Regions from separate parts of the Homo sapiens genome. Here region 2 is linked to region 1. The links come from fine-mapping of genetic effects on gene expression. Tissue or cell type: tibial nerve. Region 1 holds a variant in brackets; the other region holds the start of a gene. All regions are shown on one strand. Distances are between the middles of the regions.

Region 1 (2,912 bases):
ACAATATATCTAAGGTGCCCTGTATTTTCTCAGCACAGAGTAGGTCTTACAATTTTCTGCTGTTTTTTCGGTGTCATTTGAACAATGGACCCTCCCTCGGCCCTGCCTTTCTCTATTTTCTCACTATCCCCCAGCTCCCAGCCCATCATGCCTCCTGGTAGAGAATGTCTGAGTTACGAGTCTGAGTATACTGGCCTCTTTTAACTGGGTTGTGGTTGTAACAGCTTTGTTTTCTTAGAGTCTGTGTCTATTTGGCATCCATTCATCACAGGGCCAGTTGTATTAACTATCTTTTCTTGTTTTCTGTGTTCCTGATGCTCTGGCATTTGACTGGGGAGAGACTGCACCTCCCAGGCATAGCCAGTTCTTACAGAAAGCAAGGGGGCTTGCCCAAGAGCACTCTTTTTTTAAATGCAAAAACACCAATCCAGAGTCCACGCCCCCCACCATCTCTTTTATGGAATTCTTACACATGGAGCCAATATTCCCTCTTCCCTAAATCACCCCAGGGCCAGGCACCAGACAACTAGGGACAGTCCCTATGCTCCAAAGCCATCAGACTTATTCCAAGTAGCCAGTCCTAAGCTGTTTATCCTGCCCTGTCTTGCTTTTCCCATGGAAAACACAGTGAAGGCTCTGGCCCAGGCTCTCTCTTCTCTCCCTTCTGCCCCCTGACCAGCCAGGCTCTTTCCCATGTGGCCCTGTGTGGCATGGTGTGCCCCCTCCTCTTGGGAAATATAAGTTATAAAACTTCTCTTTCAATGGCATTAGTCTGTTTGTGTTGTCACTGAATCACCTCCATAAATTAAAATCCCACAGGTACATTTTAAGACAGTCCTACTCAAGTTCTTTTGGGAAACAGTTGAGGTGTTCAAATTGTCTTTAATAATGAGAATCCCCTTGGGTGCCGATATCTATCCTAAGGCACTTGGGGATGCCTTAGGTAAAAAAGTACCAGGGCCAGGCCTTATGGTTCAAGACCTTCTGATACCCACCATCATCTCTCCTGTGATCCCCAAAATGTGAAGAGTAGAGAGTCTAGTTCCATCGGAATCCAACACATGTTTGTAATTTTTGAAAATTATAAAAAATATGTTTGTCGTAAAACCAAAAATGATATAGAATTACACAAAGTAAAATGTGGGAGTCCCCACACACAGATCCCTTCCTTTGAACCCAATTCCTCAAGGATTCCCACTGTTCAAACTTTTGTGTGTGCATTCTTCCACCTTTTTGAGACTCTGCACAAACATGTACACATATGAGGATGAATTTGTTTTTGAAATGGAATCCAAACATACCTATTTTCTGCAACATGCTCTTTTCACTAAAC[A/G]ATATGTGGTGAATACCTTTCTCTGCCTAGCATTCTGCAGTATGAGCTGATTGTAAGTTATCTGGGCATTCCCCTACTGGGCACATTTTGGTTGTCTTGGATTTAGCCACTGTTTCTTGAGAGCTCACTCTCCATGTAGAAGGCTGGCAAAGCCTATACAATCTGCCCTTGGGTTTCACCCCAACTTCAGCTCCTCTTATCATCCCTTGCACCTCTGCCCCAACCACATTTACCTTACGTACTTTCCTCAAGTGTTCCAAACATGCTCCCACTTCAGGGCCTTTGCATGGGACTTTCCTTCAGCCTGGAATGTTTACACTTTAGACCTTCACAGGCTCATTCTCTCACTCATCTCCTTCAGGGTTCTGCTCAAACTTCATGTATCTGTGAGCCTTTCCCTTCCCTGCTATATGAAATAGAGCCCTCCTGCCTTGGCCCTACACACCCCCTCTGCCCTTACTTCCCCCTTAATGCAGTCACTATACGATGTAGGAAATGGTTACTGGTTTCTTATCTGTCTATCCTCATTAGAAAGGAAGGCTTGTGTGGGAACAGAGTTTCTGTCTGGTTCACTGCTGTGTCTCTTGTATCCAGAAAGGGCCCAGCACATAGTAGGCCTCAACAAACATGTGAATGAGTGAGTAGCCCTGTCTTGGTGCTAGTGCTCTCATGGCGTCTAGTTGTCACAACTACCCTGTGGAAGAGGTGGGTTTGCCTTATTTTAAAGTTGAGGAAACAGGCTTAGAGAGGTGAACTCCCTTACCCCAGGTCACACAGCAAGGAAGCTACCTGGATTAGTGATGATCAAATCCATTGGTCCTCAGAATTTCCAGGGAAGCCTGTTAAAGGCAAAGATGCCCAAGCCCTACTTCACATTTCCAGAATAAAGATCTTTGGGTGTTGGGCTCGAGAGTCTGCGTTTTAATGTGATCCCAGATGATTCTGAGAAAGGGCAGGGTTGAGAACCTTTGGCTTCTAGTGTGATTAAGCTTTCCTGGGGGCCTCCTTCTAAGATTTAGCAGCCTGGGGCCTGTAGGTTCTTACCACAGTGGAAGAGTCCTGCAGAATGGCCTGCAGAAGAGTGTGGGACCCACGTTGTTTCCAGCTAGAGGGAAACTAGTCTGTTTTCATGCTGCTGATAAGACATACCTGAAACTGGGTAATTTATAAAGAAAAAGAGGCTTAATGGACTCACATTTCCACATGGCTAGGGAGGCCTCACAATCATGGTGGAAGGCAAAAGGCATGTCTTACATGGCGGCAGACAAGACAGAAAAGAGGGCCAAGCGAAAGAGATTTCCCCTTATAAAACCATCAGATCTCATGAGATTTATTCACTACCATAAGAACAGTATGGGGGGAACCACCCCCATGATTCAGTTATGTCCCACCAGGTCCCTTCCACAACACGTGGAAATTTTGGGAGCTACAATTCAAGATGAGATTTGGGTGGGGACACAGTCAAATTATATCAGAGTGTGTCTCCCAGACCAGCTCAGGGTCTCTGTTCCTGGGCTTTTATTGCAGTCATGATGGTGATTTTCTTGTTGGAGGATAGCAAACTCCCAGGTGGCATTCA
Region 2 (2,912 bases), 570 kb before region 1:
AAACAAAAAAAACACCTGCCCTTTACCCTTTCTCAACCTGACAAATTGACTGACTTGTCTTGAAGGTTTGGCACCACTTCTTGGAAGCTTCCTCTGCTCCCCACCTGGGGTGATGCCCTCTTCTGGAAGGCTCTCACTGCTACACACACAGTGGCTGCCGAAGCTCAGCCTGGCTTTAGTTCCAGCCCTACTAGGTCTTCTCAGGACTCAGGATATCCAGGTGGAAGGAAGGCTGTGCCAGGTACCAACTACCCTACGTGGGATCGCCAAGATAAATCCCTCACATTCAAACTAGTCCCCCAACATCCGTCAACCCTATTCCTAACAGCAAATTGCCACCTTTAGTCCACTCCACAGTGCCCTCTGGAAGGGTCATCAAAAGACAGTTATGACCATACCAAACTATGATTCTTGACACAGAATCAAAAGTTATTTTCAATTTATTTTTTTTCTATTGTAGAACAATAATAATAATATTTAAAATCATATTTTCCTGTGATATAATTAAAACTGTGTTATTTCAATTGAATTTGAAATAGAATTCATGGTCTAAAATAGACTGAATCCCACTGTGAACATATATTTGCATGCCTTCCTCGTCATCATTCAGTTGGTGCAATTGTAAGGCATGCAATAACAAGGGAAGTGAACATTGCAGCACTGTGGCCTGTGGCCACGGTGATGGCGGGACAGCCCCACAGAGGCCACACCAGGTGACTCTCAGCTCGGTGGGTGGGAGGGGGAGTGTCTCTGTGTCCCTCTGGCACACACATCCTCACACAACCTCACATAGTCTTTTTTGCATTTGCTAGGCCATCTCATAACACTTAGGCTCATAAAATTCTGGCTTCCTTTGGATTAACTAAACCCATGGTCCCCCAAGATGGGGATTCCAGGGAGCAGGAGGGAGCCTCGAGGCAGCCCAGACTCCCAGCTGCAAACCTCACTTTCCAGAATACCACTGCCACACCTTGGCATATACCAAATGTTGACAAAGAAGGCTGTTCCCGTACAAGGGCCAATTTTAGAGCAAGCACCCTGTGGTTGGAAAACTGTAAAACCCTCAGCCCCAAAGCTGTGTGTGGCGCTTTGTGCGTGACAGGGCTGGGGCAGATCTCTCTGAGGCACTCAGGAAAACCATTCCCTTTGCTTGTGGTGGGCGGCCCCTGGTGGCTGCTCTGCCCTTGCCAAGTGTTACGTGTCTAAGGTCTGTGGGCATGTTTCTCATTTGCTGCAAAACATCCTCCCCACCCTTGCAGAGAAAGAGTCTTTTGTGCAGCACCCTTTAAAGGGTGACTCGTCCCACTTGTGTTCTCTCTCCTGGTGCAGAGTTGCAAGCAAGTTTATCGGAGTATCGCCATGAAGTTCGTCCCCTGCCTCCTGCTGGTGACCTTGTCCTGCCTGGGGACTTTGGGTCAGGCCCCGAGGCAAAAGCAAGGAAGCACTGGGGAGGAATTCCATTTCCAGACTGGAGGGAGAGATTCCTGCACTATGCGTCCCAGCAGCTTGGGGCAAGGTGCTGGAGAAGTCTGGCTTCGTGTCGACTGCCGCAACACAGACCAGACCTACTGGTGTGAGTACAGGGGGCAGCCCAGCATGTGCCAGGCTTTCGCTGCTGACCCCAAACCTTACTGGAATCAAGCCCTGCAGGAGCTGAGGCGCCTTCACCATGCGTGCCAGGGGGCCCCGGTGCTTAGGCCATCCGTGTGCAGGGAGGCTGGACCCCAGGCCCATATGCAGCAGGTGACTTCCAGCCTCAAGGGCAGCCCAGAGCCCAACCAGCAGCCTGAGGCTGGGACGCCATCTCTGAGGCCCAAGGCCACAGTGAAACTCACAGAAGCAACACAGCTGGGAAAGGACTCGATGGAAGAGCTGGGAAAAGCCAAACCCACCACCCGACCCACAGCCAAACCTACCCAGCCTGGACCCAGGCCCGGAGGGAATGAGGAAGCAAAGAAGAAGGCCTGGGAACATTGTTGGAAACCCTTCCAGGCCCTGTGCGCCTTTCTCATCAGCTTCTTCCGAGGGTGACAGGTGAAAGACCCCTACAGGTAATACCCTTTCCTTTACTCATATACAGAGACTACGTGTATATACTTATATACAGAGACTACGTGAGAGGCACTTAGCACTTTCACAGCTGCTGCGACCACATCAGAGTCTCAGCGTGTGTTTGGGGGTGGGTTTGAGGCTGTCTGTTGCAGAGCAGTGTAGATGAGGTAGTTCATCCGGAGTGGCACTTGACCCTGGAGTTGCATAGGAATCACCTACAAGGAGCTCTAAAAATGCTGATGCCCAGGCCCCTCGCCAGACCGTTCCATCTATGTCTCCAACATAGTAGCGCAGGAATGTGGACTTTTAAAACTCTCCCCCAAGTGATTTGAATGTGCAGCCAAGGTTGAGAATCTCCTTGTGATGGAACCACCTCACTGTTAGACCGAGGCCTTTGGAATTCTGCCGGGTAACGTTTCCTAATGAACCAAGCATTTGCTGCAGCTGTTAGTGGCCGAGGTGCTATGTCATGGTGGAGGTGTCGCCACACCCCGTCTTGTTCTCAGTTTTTTCTCCTACAGTCAAGTTAGGGTGGGGAGTGTTGTGCACTGAGGAAAGTTTGAGTCAAATAGTCTTTAAAGTCTTTCTCACAGCTCTCAAAGCCTTTAATTGTTTTTTGTTCATCACAGAGGAGAAAATCTAATTAATAATAACAGATTTAATCAACTCCAAGTATTGCTTTTAAAAGACCAAACTTTTTCTTGTGGAAATAAGGCTTATTACTGATCTCTATCCTTAAATGTAGCAGCTTTCATTAATTTTGCACACCAGTAAGGAGTTCATTTACATGGGATTCTAGTCTTACTTGTGCACTTTGAGTTTAAAAGGAGAGTTTCTGAGTTTTTTTCATATTATCTATG

What was found. PIP is the estimated chance that this variant, and not a neighbour inherited with it, causes the effect.
Region 2: it holds the start of FGFBP2, and the variant in region 1 is the best candidate, but not a certain one, in a credible set for the expression of FGFBP2 in tibial nerve (GTEx, PIP 0.63).

What each region holds. Positions count from the first base shown.
Region 1 is chr4:15,392,851-15,395,762 of GRCh38, reverse strand. All of the region lies in intron 1 of C1QTNF7-AS1 (C1QTNF7 antisense RNA 1), which reads left to right. It also overlaps a transcript of C1QTNF7 not described here. Among named protein-coding and RNA genes, the nearest start is that of C1QTNF7-AS1, 34 kb to the left of the region's middle. The variant A/G (reference allele first, on the strand shown) is at 1,334.
Region 2 is chr4:15,961,577-15,964,488 of GRCh38, reverse strand. FGFBP2 (fibroblast growth factor binding protein 2) reads left to right here and starts at 1,314. Exons shown (of 2, transcript NM_031950.4): 1 at 1,314-2,051. The coding sequence starts at 1,360. The coding sequence ends at 2,031. RefSeq lists an enhancer at 443-1,284.